Regions from separate parts of the Homo sapiens genome. Here region 2 is linked to region 1. The links come from fine-mapping of genetic effects on gene expression. Tissue or cell type: CD4 T cells. Region 1 holds a variant in brackets; the other region holds the start of a gene. All regions are shown on one strand. Distances are between the middles of the regions.

What was found. PIP is the estimated chance that this variant, and not a neighbour inherited with it, causes the effect.
Region 2: ELMOD2 starts here. The variant in region 1 is fine-mapped to the expression of ELMOD2 in CD4 T cells (BLUEPRINT, PIP 0.95).

The regions. Positions count from the first base shown.
Region 1 is chr4:140,097,045-140,103,725 of GRCh38, forward strand. The region is part of intron 1 of MAML3 (mastermind like transcriptional coactivator 3); the gene reads right to left. Among named protein-coding and RNA genes, the nearest start is that of MAML3-AS1, 28 kb to the right of the region's middle. The variant A/T (reference allele first, on the strand shown) is at 3,054.
Region 2 is chr4:140,519,820-140,528,182 of GRCh38, forward strand. ELMOD2 (ELMO domain containing 2) reads left to right here and starts at 4,349. Exons shown (of 9, transcript NM_153702.4): 1 at 4,349-4,461; 2 at 5,601-5,751; 3 at 7,647-7,675. The coding sequence starts at 5,610. RefSeq lists silencers at 4,051-4,400, 4,591-4,710.

The DNA.
Region 1 (6,681 bases):
GAGTGCACAGCCTAAAACAGCCCAATACCCTGGAGAATACATTTGTATATTTAGTTTTATTTTAAAACACAGTGAAACAGGAAACACTATCTGCCAGAAAACTACCAAATATAGAATGTCCCACACCTCCCCATCCATGCAAAACACAAACGGACTAAGATTTCAATTCAGGGCAAGAGCATAAGAGATGAGTCTATTTCAAGGCAGGTTCCACTTGGGAAATGATAATCTTCTTTTGGTCTTGATAACCCACTCTCCTCAGTCTCTCTCTCCTTTCCTCTCTCCCTCCACCTTTCACCACCTCATCTCAGCTCCTTCAGTGTACAGGAGCTGCTTAGAAGGAGAAGACGAAGCCGAGGTTTTGTTCGAGTTGTTACAGTCCCATGGTCATTTCCGTAGTGGGTCAGCAAGTACAACCAAAGTAAATCCAAAGAAGGGAAGGATGAGAGCTACCTGGTTATTTTTCAAAAAGATGGGGCTTTGAAATGGGATTTAAAAAAAAGTTGGGAAGTATTAAAGGGAAAATCTTCCTGAAACCGGATACTGAAGAAGGAATGTACTGAAGGAAGACGGGGTGAAGAGTGGCCAGAAAAAAAAAAAGGTTAATTTTATAAATAATACCAAAGAGTTAAGTGGACAGAATGATGGGAAAGAAGCTAAAGTTTGGCCACTTATCTGACCATACCTGCAAAACTGGAAATTTCACAACCTCATCTCCAAGCTCACGTTCCTTCGTGGTGACAAGAGGGAAGTGAAGACTTTTAACCAGATGGGAAAAGTTACCACAATATTTCCAATACTGTGTTTCCACCAAATATTTCCAAACTGGCATAGGATAGAGGGCATGAACCAGCTATCACTGACTGGCTTGGCATTTTTGTCAACCTGCCTGTATTAAGAAACCTGTCTTGAAAAGAGCATTTTTATTAAAAGCTAAAAGCCTTCAAGTCCTCCACGTTTTTCTCCACTACGAAGTATTAGAATAGAGAGAATAAGCTATCGTTCATTTATTCAACATTTACTGAACACCTATTAATTATGTGCTCGGTCCAGGGAGTTCTTAAGAGTTCTCACATTTTCAAAAACTGGGAGAACTTCTATTTTGCATATGTGAAGTGTGTTTATTTATACCCAAACAATATTGTGATAAAGAACATTTGTAGTTCACTCAAAATATTCGCAGTATGCTCAAAAGGGCAAAGGTTTTTTGAATCCGAGCTCTATTACATACAATGCGCACGTCCTTGGGCAAATTATTTCTCTAGACCTTGTTTTCTTCATCTGTGTAATGGGGAACTAGGTTTCATCATTTTTTATGAAGATTAAGTGAAATATCAGCTGGCAAGCACTTAACAGAAGCTGGCACATGGCATTCAAGCAATCATGCATTTAGTAAATATTTATTGAGCACCTCGTATACGCCAGGCTGTGTTGTAAACACAGAGCCTCACCAACCAAAGGGAGAAGCCAGATTCCCCCTTTCTTATCCTTCCCGTATCATCACCAGGACTTCTCAGGGGCTCTGAAAGCCTGTGAAAATGAAACCAACTGGACGCAGTACCAATGCCAAACACCATTATTTTCAATATCTCATGGTGCTCTGCACCAAGGATTGAATTTTCAAGTGAGATTCACGCTGCCCATGAGTCCTGGGCACAAAGGCCATGTGGCTACTGGTCTGCATCGGGCTATTCACCTGGGGACCCAAAAGCAGAGCCCTGGAGCCACCCACACCCTGGCCTCCAGGGTTTAGACAGAAATAGAACTTAAGAGACATAGGTTGCTGTCTCTCTTGCCTTTTTGCTCTTAAAATGAGAAAGGTGACTTATTTTGAGGTGGGGGAGGGATACCCTCTATTCAGAGGAAGTTCCCACATGAACTGCTACATTGTTTCTCTGACTCATTTTTACTTTTCCTCCCCATTGCTTCCCAGCCCTCCCTTGATGTCTCGGTCTGTTCCAGATGTGGTACAATAGGCTCTTTGTTTACAAGATTGTAATGTGCAATAAAATCAGTTATGAGGCCAAGAATAATTTATGCACAAAAAAATAAGGACAGTAAAATTGACATGAATTGTATGTTTTACAGTACTTTTTGATCTGTTACATTCCTGTTGATAGAATTGATAGACACTAGCTAAAAACTTTTAAGTGTTCATAAAACTCTGTTCACATTGGAAGTATATCACACACACACACACACACACACACACACACGTGCACACAAACAACTCAGGAGCAAAACTTTTTTAAAAGCCTTAAGCAAAATACTGAGTTCTTAATTTTGTTACTGACACAAGCATCCACCCAGTCTCACAAGTAAGAAATCTGTAGCTATTTTCTTTTTTTTCTTTCTTTCTGTCTTTGTTTTTAGAGACAGGGTCTCACTCTGCCACCCAGACTGGAATACAGTGGCACCATCATAGCTCACTGCAGTCTCGAACTCCTGGGTTCCAGCAATCCTCCCGCCTGGAGTTATTTTCAGTGGGTAAGGCAAGGTTTCATGGGAAATCATAGACAGTTTGTAGCCAAACATGCTTGGCTCTGAATCTCAATCCTATTCACTTCTAGCTAGGAGGTTTTTAAACATCTCAAAGCCTCAGTTACTGCATATGAAAAATGGATTTTGGTGAAAATTAAATTAGATAAAGGATGAGCAGAATGTCTGAACACATGTTTGGCAATCAGAAAGTTATTTCTCCAACCTCCCTTCCCCAACACACCTCTCAAAACCTTTCTTTTCCATTCTATCACTCAGTTTCATCTCTCCTGGACTACTGCTCTCCGACAGGGTTTTCAGCCTTTTGTCTACTACTCCTTCAAACCATCCCAAACCTGCTATTACAAACAACATTCAAAAATCAGAAATTTGATCATGGCACTCCCTGTCACAAATCCTCCTATGGTGATAACATTCAGAACAAATCTGCATTCAGAGAAAGTCCACGTGTCCCCAACCCATCTGTTCAGCCTCAACTCCCCCATGACCACCCCACCCCTGCCCCTTGAACGACCGCAGCCCCCACGTTCCAGGCACCCAGTCATTGTGAGTGG[A/T]GCATGCCATCTGCTCTGGTGCATGGACTCTCACTGCCACTCCTCCGGGATGCCAGCCCCACTCCACCCCCTCCCATCTGTAGAGATCACTGTCTCCTTCAAGGCTTAGCCCCAGTGCCACTTCCTCTCTGCAACGTTCCCGGATTTCCTCTGCTGACTCAAGCCTCCACTCATGTGTCTATGCCTTTCTCAAGTTTATTATTTAAACTTTTGTTCTCCAGTTATCCATATCTATGAGGGTCCACCCCCCTAGACTCAGTTCCTCCATGACAGAGACCAAATTGTATTCATTTTTACAAACAGTCCTCAAGTTTTATCCTTCCTTGCAAGAAGAAAATAAAACCAAACAGATAATTTATTGAACTGAAAGGACAGAATGAGGATAGAAGTAACTAAACAATGCCCCTGTGAATAGAGGCATTTCTTAGTGGAAAAACATATATATGTGTGTGTATGTTTGTATAATGTAAAAACGGAGCAAGCCATTCCCAAAGTGCTTCAAATTCTGGCAAAACTAAGATGCACTTAAAATGAAGTCTTAGGTGTATTAAAAAAAAAAAAGATTTCAAAAACCTCAGCAAACCACAGAGGTATACACCATATGTGGTAGATTAAAAATGACCACAAATTCTTTGATCCTTCTTCCATGGACAGATGTGTCTATTCCACAACCTGCGTCCACCACTTTTAAAGGTGAGTTGCCTATAACTGCTTGGACCAATCAAGTATGGGAGTGATTTTGAATATGGGAGTGATATTATGCCATTTCCAAACCTAGTGCTTAATATGACTAACAGTTTTGGCCTTGGTCTCTTGGAACCCTGGGCTTCCCTGTAAGAAATATGAGTACCCTAATGGAGAAACCACATGGAATGGCTCCAAGGCTCCATGGAGAGGCAGACAGGCCCAGTGGGGAGCTCAGTCTTCCAGGCATCCTTGCCAAGGTGCCAGGAAGGTGAGTGAAGCCATATTGGATCCTCCAGATCAGAGCAGCCATTGACTGACTAACAGCAAGGGACCAGAGTCGACGCTACATGGAATAGAAGAATCACTCAGCTGAGCCCTGCTTGAACAAAATCACAGATATAATCAAATAATGGTTGTTTAAGCCGTCAAGTTTTGGTGTGGTTTGCTAGTTAGCAATAGGTAACAGGAACACAATTTTAATCCCTTTTGGCCCAGCGTCCTACCCTACCTAATAGAACACTTTTCCTCTAAAGGGAGGAAAGTGGCCTTGTGTAGAATAGAGCTCCCAAGTCACTGATGGTCTAGTTGAAGGGATGAGAAACTCACCAGGCTCTTGGACAGTTGCAGTTGTAATGCACTTGTGTAATGTATAATACACATTTCTTTCAGATAAGTTCAGTTTACCCACAGCTGTTCTATCTGTCAACAGATATTGGGGCAAATGTGGTTAATAACTTCAGGAACAATTTGGTAGAATTCTACTCAGGAAGCCAGGAGACCCTCCATTTCAGTCTTTTACCATCCACATCTCTTGTGTATATGAGGAAGAAATGTTTGTGTCTTCATTTGCCTAGCTATCACATGAAGAGAAGCATACGTGATACCTCTTAGATCAGTGTAAATTAGAAATGAAATCAGGTTATGGACTGAAAACACCTTCAGTTCCTTGGCCAAAAAAAGGCTAGGTAAACTCAAGGTACTATCATCATTTTGCAAATATGTTATTCCACTATATAAAATAGCCTAAATTAGTAAATGCAATTCCACGTGCTGGGTCAGCTGAGCATTTTTTTTTTTTTTTTACATTTGCCAGATTCCCCTTGTTTTGTCTTTCTAGCCAATAGAACAACACTAAAATATATGGAGAATTTAACTAACTTTTGAAAAAGAGATAACACAAGTTAGAACCAGAAGAAGTCATCTGTGCCATAAGTTTGTGTCTTCTAAGAGCCATCAGCCAGGCAAAATGAAGTGGGAAACTTGAAACTTAACATGTATAAATGATTTGTGTTGTTTTGTTTTAATGCTAAGTACTCAGCAAAAAGCTGAGTTATTAGAAAATGGACACTAGCCTGTGCTTGTGGGCATAAATTCTCCATCTATGAGAAGGCATGAATTGAGGCACTATATTGATTACATTATGTTGTTTATTCTCATATAACTCTCTATTGTAGAAACGATTTCTAGCCCCATCTTCAAGATGGGAAATGGAATCCTAGAGAGACTTCATTTTTCTCCTATATTTGTATTTAGCAATTGCTATTGCTGCCGTAAGAAAATAACACAGGGTGGCTTGAACAACAGAAATTTATTTTCTCACAGTTCTGGAGGCTGGAAGTCCAAGATCAAGGTGCCAAGCAAGGCTGGTTTCTCCTGAGGCCTCTATCCTTGGCTTGCAGATGGCCGCCTCCTATCTGTGTCCTCACATGTGGCCTTTTCTCTGTGCATGCTTATGCCTGATGTCTCTTCCCCTTCTTAAAATGACACCAGTTATACTGGATTAGGGCCCCACCCTTATGACCTCATTTAACCTTAATTATCTCCTTCAAGGCCCGCCCTCCAAATACAGTCACATTGAGGATTAGGGTTTCAGCCTATGAATTTTGCAGGCACATGAGTCAGTCCCTAAGAACTCTACAAATCACCAAGCCAGTCAGTGCAGAGCCAGGGTAGACACCCTGGCTCCCTGCCATTATCTGTGGTCCCCCTGATTACTATCCGTGGTACTTCACCATCCCATCACTGCCTCAGTCTATGTCCAGAGAAAATGGCCTTGTGTAAAATTACTCATCACCACCAAGTGAAGAGAATGAAGGCCACAGTAGGAAGTAAAGGAAAGAAGGGAAGCTGAAGCTATAGGAAGACAAATGTAAAATCCAGAAAAACTGACACTTAGCAAGGCAGAAAGTGCAGCTCACACCCAAACCTATTCTGTGGCCAAAGACTCCCCTCACCGTCCCCATAATTTGGGCTTTGTTGTAACTGCAAGAAACTCCCCGACGCCACTCTCAATGGTGAGGAAGGACCACTGCTTGCTCTGCTACTAGAAGTCATTGGCAGGGCACAACTCAATCACATGCTTTTTGCAAAATTACAAGATAATATACAATTTAATTTTTTCATCAGATTTTTGCAACCAAAAAATTTCAAAGACCTTGGAGTGCTATATAGCTAATAAATGCAATTAATAAAGATTTTGTGATCAGCTAAAACAGGTTAAATCCCAAAAAGCAAGACATGGTTTTTCTCCCTCTTTCAGATAATGCAGGGAAGCATCACATATTTATAAAGCACAAGCTTTCAACTATATTGGATTTTCCTTTTAAAAAGAACAATAATTTAAAGTGGCTTCTAGCAGAGAAATGTTAGGTACATTTAAATGGGTATTTGTGTTCTGAAAATCCTAATTGGAACTCTTCTATTGTTGTTGTTTATGTGTGTGTTTGTTGTGCTTCTGAGAAAGGGCTGAGGTTCTTTTGTGCATTAGAAAGCCTTTCATCTAAAATTCCAGTTTCATACAAAATTAAACCGGCATATTGGAGATACAACTTTACAGAAAGCATGAAGACAAACTGAAGTATTGTTTTTAAAAGACAGGAAAAATCAAAATGGTTTTTCTATGTGAATCATTCTACAACAAATATGAGACACAGCAGGATGG
Region 2 (8,363 bases), 420 kb after region 1:
TCATCATCACTGGCCATCAGAGAAATGCAAATCAAAACCACAATGAGATACCGTCTCACACCAGTTAGAATGGCGATCATTAAAAAGTCAGGAAACCACAGGTGCTGGAGAGGATGTAGAGAAATAGGAATACTTTTACACTGTTGGTGGGACTGCAAACTAGTTCAACCATTGTGGAAGTCGGTGTCGCGATTCCTCAGGGATCTAGAACTAGAAATACCATTTGACTCAGCCATCCCATTACTGGGTATATACCCAAAGGATTATAAATCATGCTGCTATAAAGACACATGCACACATATGTTTATTGTGGCATTATTCACAATGGCAAAGACTTGGAACCAACCCAAATGTCCAATAATGATAGACTAGATTAAGAAAATGTGGCACTGTAGCCTTGTAGTATAGTTTGAAGTCAGGTAGTGTGATGCCTCCAGCTTTGTTCTTTTGGCTTAGGATTGACTTGGCGATGCGGGCTCTTTTTTGGTTCCATATGAACTTTAAAGTAGTTTTTTCCAATTCTGTGAAGAAAGTCATTGGTAGCTTGATGGGGATGGCATTGAATCTGTAAATTACCTTGGGCAGTATGGCCATTTTCACGATATTGATTCTTCCTACCCATGAGCATGGAATGTTCTTCCATTTGTTTGTATCCTCTTTTATTTCCTTGAGCAGTGGTTTGTAGTTCTCCTTGAAGAGGTCCTTCACATCCCTTGTAAGTTGGATTCCTAGGTATTTTATTCTCTTTGAAGCAATTGTGAGTGGGAGTTCACTCATGATTTGGCTCTCTGTTTGTCTGTTGTTGGTGTATAAGAATGCTTGTAACCAAAACAGCATGGTACTGGTACCAAAACAGAGATATAGATCAATGGAACAGAACAGAGCCCTCAGAAATAACACCGCATATCTACAACTATCTGATCTTTGACAAACCCGAGAAAAACAAGCAATGGGGAAAGGATTCCCTATTTAATAAATGGTGCTGGGAAAACTGGCTAGACATATGTAGAAAGCCGAAACTGGATCCCTTCCTTACACCTTATAAAAAATCAAGTCAAGATGGATTAAAGACTTAAACGTTAGACCTAAAACCATAAAAATCCTAGAAGAAAACCTAGGCATTACCATTCAGGACATAGGCATGGGCAAGGGCTTCATGTCTAAAACACCAAAAGCAATGGCAACCAAAGCCAAAATTGACAAATGGGATCTAATTAAACTAAAGAGCTTCTGCACAGCAAAAGAAACTACCATCAGAGTGAACAGGCAACCTACAAAATGGGAGAAAATTTTCACAACCTACTCATCTGACAAAGGGCTAATATCCAGAATCTACAATGAACTCAAACAAATTTACAAGAAAAAAACAACCCCATCAAAAAGTGGGCGAAGGACATGAACAGACACTTCTCAAAAGAAGACATTTATGCAGCCAAAAAACACATGAAAAAATGCTCACCATCACTGGCCATCAGAGAAATGCAAATCAAAACCACAATGAGATACCATCTCACACCAATTAGAATGGCAATCATTAAAAAGTCAGGAAACAACAGGTGCTGGAGAGGATGTGGAGAAATTGGGAACACTTTTACACTGTTGATGGGACTGTAAACTAGTTCAAACATTGTGGAGGTCAGTGTAGCGATTCCTCAGGGATCTAGAACTAGAAATACCATTTGACCCAGCCATCCCATTACTGGGTATATACCCAAAGGACAATAAATCATGCTGCTATAAAGACACATGCACATGTATGTTTATTGCGGCATTATTCACAATAGCAAAGACTTGGAACCAACCCAAATGTCCAACAATGATAGACTGGATTAAGAAAATGTGGCACATATACACCATGGAATACTATGCAGCCATAAAAAATCATGAGTTCATGTCCTTTGTAGGGACATGGATGAAGCTGGAAGCCATCATTCTCAGCAAACTATCGCAAGGACAAAAAACCAAACACCGCATGTTCTCACTCATAGGTGGGAATTGAACAATGAGAACACATGGACACAGGAAGGGGAACATCACACACCGGGGACAGGAAGGGGGAAGGGGGAGGGATAGCATTAGGAGATATACCTAATGCTAAATGACATGTTAATGGGTGCAGCACACCAACATGGCACATGTATGCATATGTAACAAACCTGCACGTTGTGCACATGTACCCTAAAACTTAAAGTATAATAACAAAAAACAGTCATACCAAAGAACTCTTTCCAATAAGCAGTTTCTAAAATCAACAGTTCCATGGCTGTTTAGTCTGAGAATCCAAGAAAGCAGAGATTCCTCAGTACTACTAAAAAATATAACCAAATTTCCTTCCTCTATTGCCTTTGGTTTGTATGTAGGTGTATCTGATAAGGCCACGTAGATGCACACAGGTTGAGAGACCTAGGGACCTAGATGGAGAAGGTCCCACTTTCTCCATGAAACCAGAATCTTAATCTTAGGATATAATTAACCTTTAGCTAGCCACAAGAAAGAAGAAAACCAAAGAGAATAAGAAATAGAGATGGACAATCTTTCCTGAGAAACAGGATTTGTTTAATGTATCTGCCAGTTACATGCAAGTGAATTAGTGGAAAAGGGAAGAGGCAAAAGGTATGCATAAGAAGTTTTAATGTACAGTGACCCTGCTTATAATAAATGCAGCTTAATCAATTTCTCTGGTTCTGACAAAACATATCAGCATTCTCTTCTCTTGGGGAAAGACATAAATGGAAGTGGGCAAACAGGCAGCAGGGAAACAAGGAGGAGAGAGTTCCTCTACTGCACTGCCTACACTTAGTATAGCACTTTGAAAAGGCAAAAGGATTACATATAGAATTATCTCACCTTCTACTATGTAAAAGTTTGTGTAATAATGGAGATCCTCCTGAAATAGAAGTTAGTTTACAGGTCAATTTGCCAAATCGGCTGTGCACTTTGCCTTTCTAAATCTTTTAATCTATAATTTTAAAAATTACATTAGATGATAGTTATAAGTTCTCTTTAAGATTTAAGATTCTGTGATTTTACTATTGTAGTGTCTATCCAGACTTCATTACCAAGTTCATTGTTGGTATGGGACAGGGATGACGGCTTATGCACCCTGCACATGGCTAGTGTTCTACAATTAGTCCATTTTTTAAACGCTGGTTGAGATGTGGGAAAGTATGTATCACTTGCTTCAATTCAAGGAGTTGGAAGGAATATACATATATACACTTGCATATAATATTTTTGGAATTAGAAACAAGAAAGTAATACTGGTTGCTTCTGAGCAAGGTGACGGAGGTATCAGGAGTTTTGGGTGGATGGGGAAATTTGTTTTCAGTATCAGTTGTCCTTTGTATTTATATTCTACTCTCCCCCTTGCTCTTTCTCCTCCAGCCACCCCGGCCTTCTTGCTCTTCCTCCAACATTTCAAAAACCCTCCCAATTCAAGGTCTTTGCACTTGTCATTCTGGTGCCTGGATCACTCTCCCTCCAGATACTCCCACAGTAAACTCCCTTACTTCGTTCAATGAGGCCAAAATGCCACGTTAATAATGAGACTTCCTTGACCACACTGTATGCAATGACTTCCCCCACAGACTCCCCATTACCCCTTAGCTAACAACCCCTATACCCTTAACATTTAGTAGCATCTGACATATTAAATATTTGGCTGTTTGTTTCGTGTTTGACTGCCTTTTGGAACACTGCCTGTGCTAACAATCAACAAATACTTGTTGAATTAAGAAACTTACTGCTTGAGGTTTTTAAAAAGTAATCACGAAATTACTTTTTCAACAAAAACAACCAGTTAGGGAATAAACATTTGATAAATTAACTTTTAGACCTATAGTATTATAGGATAAAGTCCAAACTTCGTTTCTCAACACATGGACTTTCCTCATCTGCCACGTATTGGCCACAGTCAAGTAGCCGGTTCCCTTTTCTCGTGCATAAAGTGGAGTTATTCATAATTACTTCACAGAATTAAGATTCAATGCAGATGAAAGCGCTTTTGTAACTAAGGCACTATAAGTTACCGTAAGCACAGGGTTTCTTCCGCGCTTGGAGCCTAGGAATAGTACAAGGTGTCAACCCGCGCTAAGGACCTGAGGTTCAAGGAGGGAAAAGTCTCCAGCGCAGCGCTAGGAGGCGCTACTCCGGCGCGGGGCGGGGCTCCTGGCCGCCGTTGCCAGGGAAACCGTCTGGGCGTCCCTAGTATCTGAGCCCTCGCGCCTGGGCCACTCAGCTCGACCTCTCTCCAGCGTTAGCAATAGGTGGAGCGCGGGCCAATCGGAAGAGGCCGGAGGGGCGGGGCGGGCAGTGGCCCTGGGAAGGCGGGTCCGCGGCCTCGCTCCCTGACTTCCGGGTCGCGGTGCTTGAAGGGAGTGTTCCGTCGTTTCCGTTGCCGGCTGTTTGCAGTGGGGAAACCGAGGCAGCTCCTGCTCCCCCTAGTTCTTCCGCTCCTGTGAGGTGGCTGCTGTTTCTTTTCCTCTTGCCCCGGATGCCTCGGTGCGGCTGCACTGAGAGCGCGCGGGCTCGCGAGCCCCGCGGGGTTCTGCGGGAACCCGGGGGCGCCTGGGCCGGCGGGTCTTTGTGCGAGCCCTGCCCTCCCATTCGCGGGCGGCGCGCGAGGGGGGTCGGCGCAGAGACGCCCAGAGCCCTGGGGTGCTCAGGCGCCGCTACGCGTGCATCCCCTCTGCTCGGCAGTTCTGCGCTTTTGTCCTAATGAGCGCGGACTAGATGGCTTGATTTTCAAGATAATGATCAACCCAGCTGTGCTATGCGCTCTTTCTGCACTGACCTGCGGGTACTTCGAACTTCGACAGTCCCTCCTCAGGCCCTAGTCCAGAGGTGACGTGTCTGTGGGAATGTTTAAGGCAGGAAGGAGACGAGCAATTTTGTTTTTAAGTATCTCCCTCTCACTAGTATCTCCCTGACTTTTTCATTTAGAAGCTGAAGAATTTTCTTATGGCATAAGATATAGTTGTATCGAGTGTGTACTTAGCAAAACAAAAACTTGTTAGTATTTCTGCCCTTGACCTATTGAATGGAAAATCAAGAATGAGCTAAGGTGTTATATACTCAGTGTTCAACTTGTATACTTAAGTTTGTAGTGTTTTTATTTGCTGGCATCACCTGACTGGGACAGTTGTAACGAATTATCCACATGGGATAAGAAGAGTGTATTCTATAAAAACAACTCTGATGTTTTGGTATATATTTTAATTGTTGATTAGTTGGAGTCCTCTTGATCTTGAACTGTTGAGCCCCAGTTCTCAAAGAATGGGAAGTTAGGAAACTAAGATATGAAATACAATTATTTAGCAAAAAGTGCAAACCATTCTGTTACTCTTTCAAGCCATTGAATAGTTTGAGTACATTGTTTGAATTTTAGTTTTGAAAAAGTGATTAATTGGCCATTTGATCATCAATTAATAGCGGTATATATTACACCTGCCATTGTTTTTAAATGCCTAATTAAACTGTCAAAACAGACACAATGAAATGATAGATACATAATTTGAGATTTGATCAGTTGTATAAACTTTTTAAATTTTAAAATTCAGTTTAAGGTCATTAAGCTTGTCTTGTATGTTTCCCTCCTCCAGGAAAAAAAAATGTTTATTTCTTTGTGGGAGTTCTTCTATGGGCACTTTTTTCGATTTTGGATGAAATGGCTATTACGACAGATGACTGGGAAGTGTGAATTGCAGCGAATATTTGATACCTATGTAGGTGCACAAAGGACACACAGGATAGGTAATGTTATTCAAAAAGAAAAAGTACTAATAAAAGTTTAACGGAGTGTTTTTCTCAGGACTCACAGTGACAGATGTATTTCTTTTGTATCCTGACAAGTCACTTAAACTGAATTTCATAAGCTCTGAAGTCCCGCTTTGACTCCTTCAGCTCTAAAATTGTATGAATTTATAGAAAAAGTGGTTATTTAATTGCTTATGTGTGGAAAGAATTCTCTGGCTCCTGAAGTTTATCGGTTATTCCTTAGATTATAGTTGCAACCTATTTTCTGGTGAAAAATTTCTATACTTACATAATCCCTTTGAAATTTTCACTCACATGGTGGGAAGAATGAGTGCCTCAGTCTACATCCATTTTTATACTTAGGATCCTTCATCAGTCTTTTACTTTCTTACTGTTACTTATGAAAGGCCTGTAATTATGTATCCAGTGGTCTCTAGGAAAGATTATTAGACTCATTCTCACTGTCCAATACCATAGCCAATAGCCACATTATATTGAGCATTTGAAATGTGGCTAGTCTAAATTGAGATGTGCTGTAAGTGTAAAATATAAACTGTATTTCAAAGACTTATAAGAAAATGTAAAAAGTCCCAGTAATTGTTTATATTCTTTGTATGTTGAAATGGTAATATTTTGGATATGTTGGGTTAAAAATATATTAAAATGTTATCTGTTTCTTTTTACTTTAATGTGGCTATACAGAATTTTAAAGTACACAAATGGGTCACATTTTGGCTTGTGTTATATTTCTGTTGAACAGTGTTGCTCTGTTACCTTCTAAAATACATCAGTTTTCAGTGCTTCATTGAAAATTTTACTCTAAAATTTGAACACAGATGAGTAAGAACTGTGTTTTGAAGTCGCTTCTTTTCAGCCAGGGTAAGGAAGAGCAGAGAAGTGCTCTAGCTCATGCTCTCTGTGTTAAACGGAAAATTGTGAATTAGCCAGATTTTTTTTTTGTGTTGATCAAGTGTGCTTCGACTGAGAAATCAACCCCTGTCAGGTTAAGAGAGTGGAGTATTGGCAAATGGAACCTGTATCCAAGACAACATCGGAAGAATGACAGACAGACGCTGCCTCATAGCAGCTGGTTGATTAAGTTTAATTACTTTCCTAGTTTTCTTACAACTTCATGGTTGACTTAAATTATTGCTGCTCTTTTAATTTGCCCTTTTGACTACTCAAAAGAACAAAGTACCTCTTGATAAGAAATCTCTTCAGGCAGTATGGGTTGGTGTTTTATAGTGTGGGGGAAGAATATATATAAAGGCATTTGTTTGTGGCAAAAGCATTTTTCCTAAATTTTTCAAATTGCTGAGAAAAGATTATTCGTAAATGTGCCAGAAAATTTTTTAAATAGACCAATAAAAATGTTCCTGTGATTCTTGATATAGAAACCAGGAATGGAGAAGCTATTTGTCTGGTGACAGAAGGGTTGACCAGATAATCTGAAGTCCTTGCCTATTTGTTGTACGATTTGGTTGCTATCACCTCAAATCTAAAGGCTCAGGCTAACAAATGAAAATGCAGTAGAGAGCACTCTCATTGTAGTCTTAAGATGAGTTTCTGGGACCTGAGCTACTGTGACACAATTATGGGTGAATTTGCAGTGGTTAGTAGACACTTTGGGGTCTAAACAGAAACATATGACCCCAGGTAATGAGGTTGGTGTCACCTCTTTGAATAGGTATTTTGTGTTTGGTTGAGTTTTTTGAAATCATATGTTTATACTGTAAGATTAAATTTTAAAATGCTTCCTGTTATATAGAAATTATATCTCCTGGAACTATTAGTTTGTTACTGGTTTGATATTTTTACTAGTTGTTTATTATAGGGTAATTGACAAACAGCATTTAAGTGATAACATCTTTTTTTTTTTTTTGTCATTTCAGAAAATTCCTTGACATACTCCAAGAATAAGGTAGGATAACATAAAGGTGGTAACTCTAGAAAACTTAACGTGGACATATTTTTTCTTAAAAAAAAAAAAGTGCCCTGCTAGAAGAGTGTTTTCTATAGTGAGCATTGAGTGAAATTTTCCCCGTTTAGAGGTAATATTCTGTTTTCAAACATTTCTCTATATATGTGTTTTTCGTGTGTATTTCAAAGAAAATACTTGAATAATTTGTCCTGTCCTGAGGTTTTATTTGTTTATTTTGCTTTAAGAGTTGATAGCTTTTAGGAAAGCAGGGCCTTAGGAGGAAAGTCGTCTTTTAGACTGTGTCCTCAGGATAGATTATATGAGAGAAAAGCAACTTAGGATAGAGAAAACCCTGGGTTGTGTACCTTTTGAGCTAAAATAAGTCATAATTCATGCTATGTATTAGTCAGCTTTTGCTGTGTAACAAACTATAATAAAATCTCAGGGGCATAAAACGATACGTTGTTTCTTGCTCATATGTCTATGGGTCAGCTGGAGAAGCCTTACTTCAAGCTGGGGCCAAGTTCCTGTCTATTCCATTTGTCTCATCTGGGACTCAGGTAGGGGGTTAACAGGTATCTGGTGAATGTTTTCACCATGGATAACTAAAGGCCCAACTACACAAATATATTTTAAGTCTCTTTGTGTCATGTCTGTTAGCAACCTGTTAGTTAAAACAAGTTACATG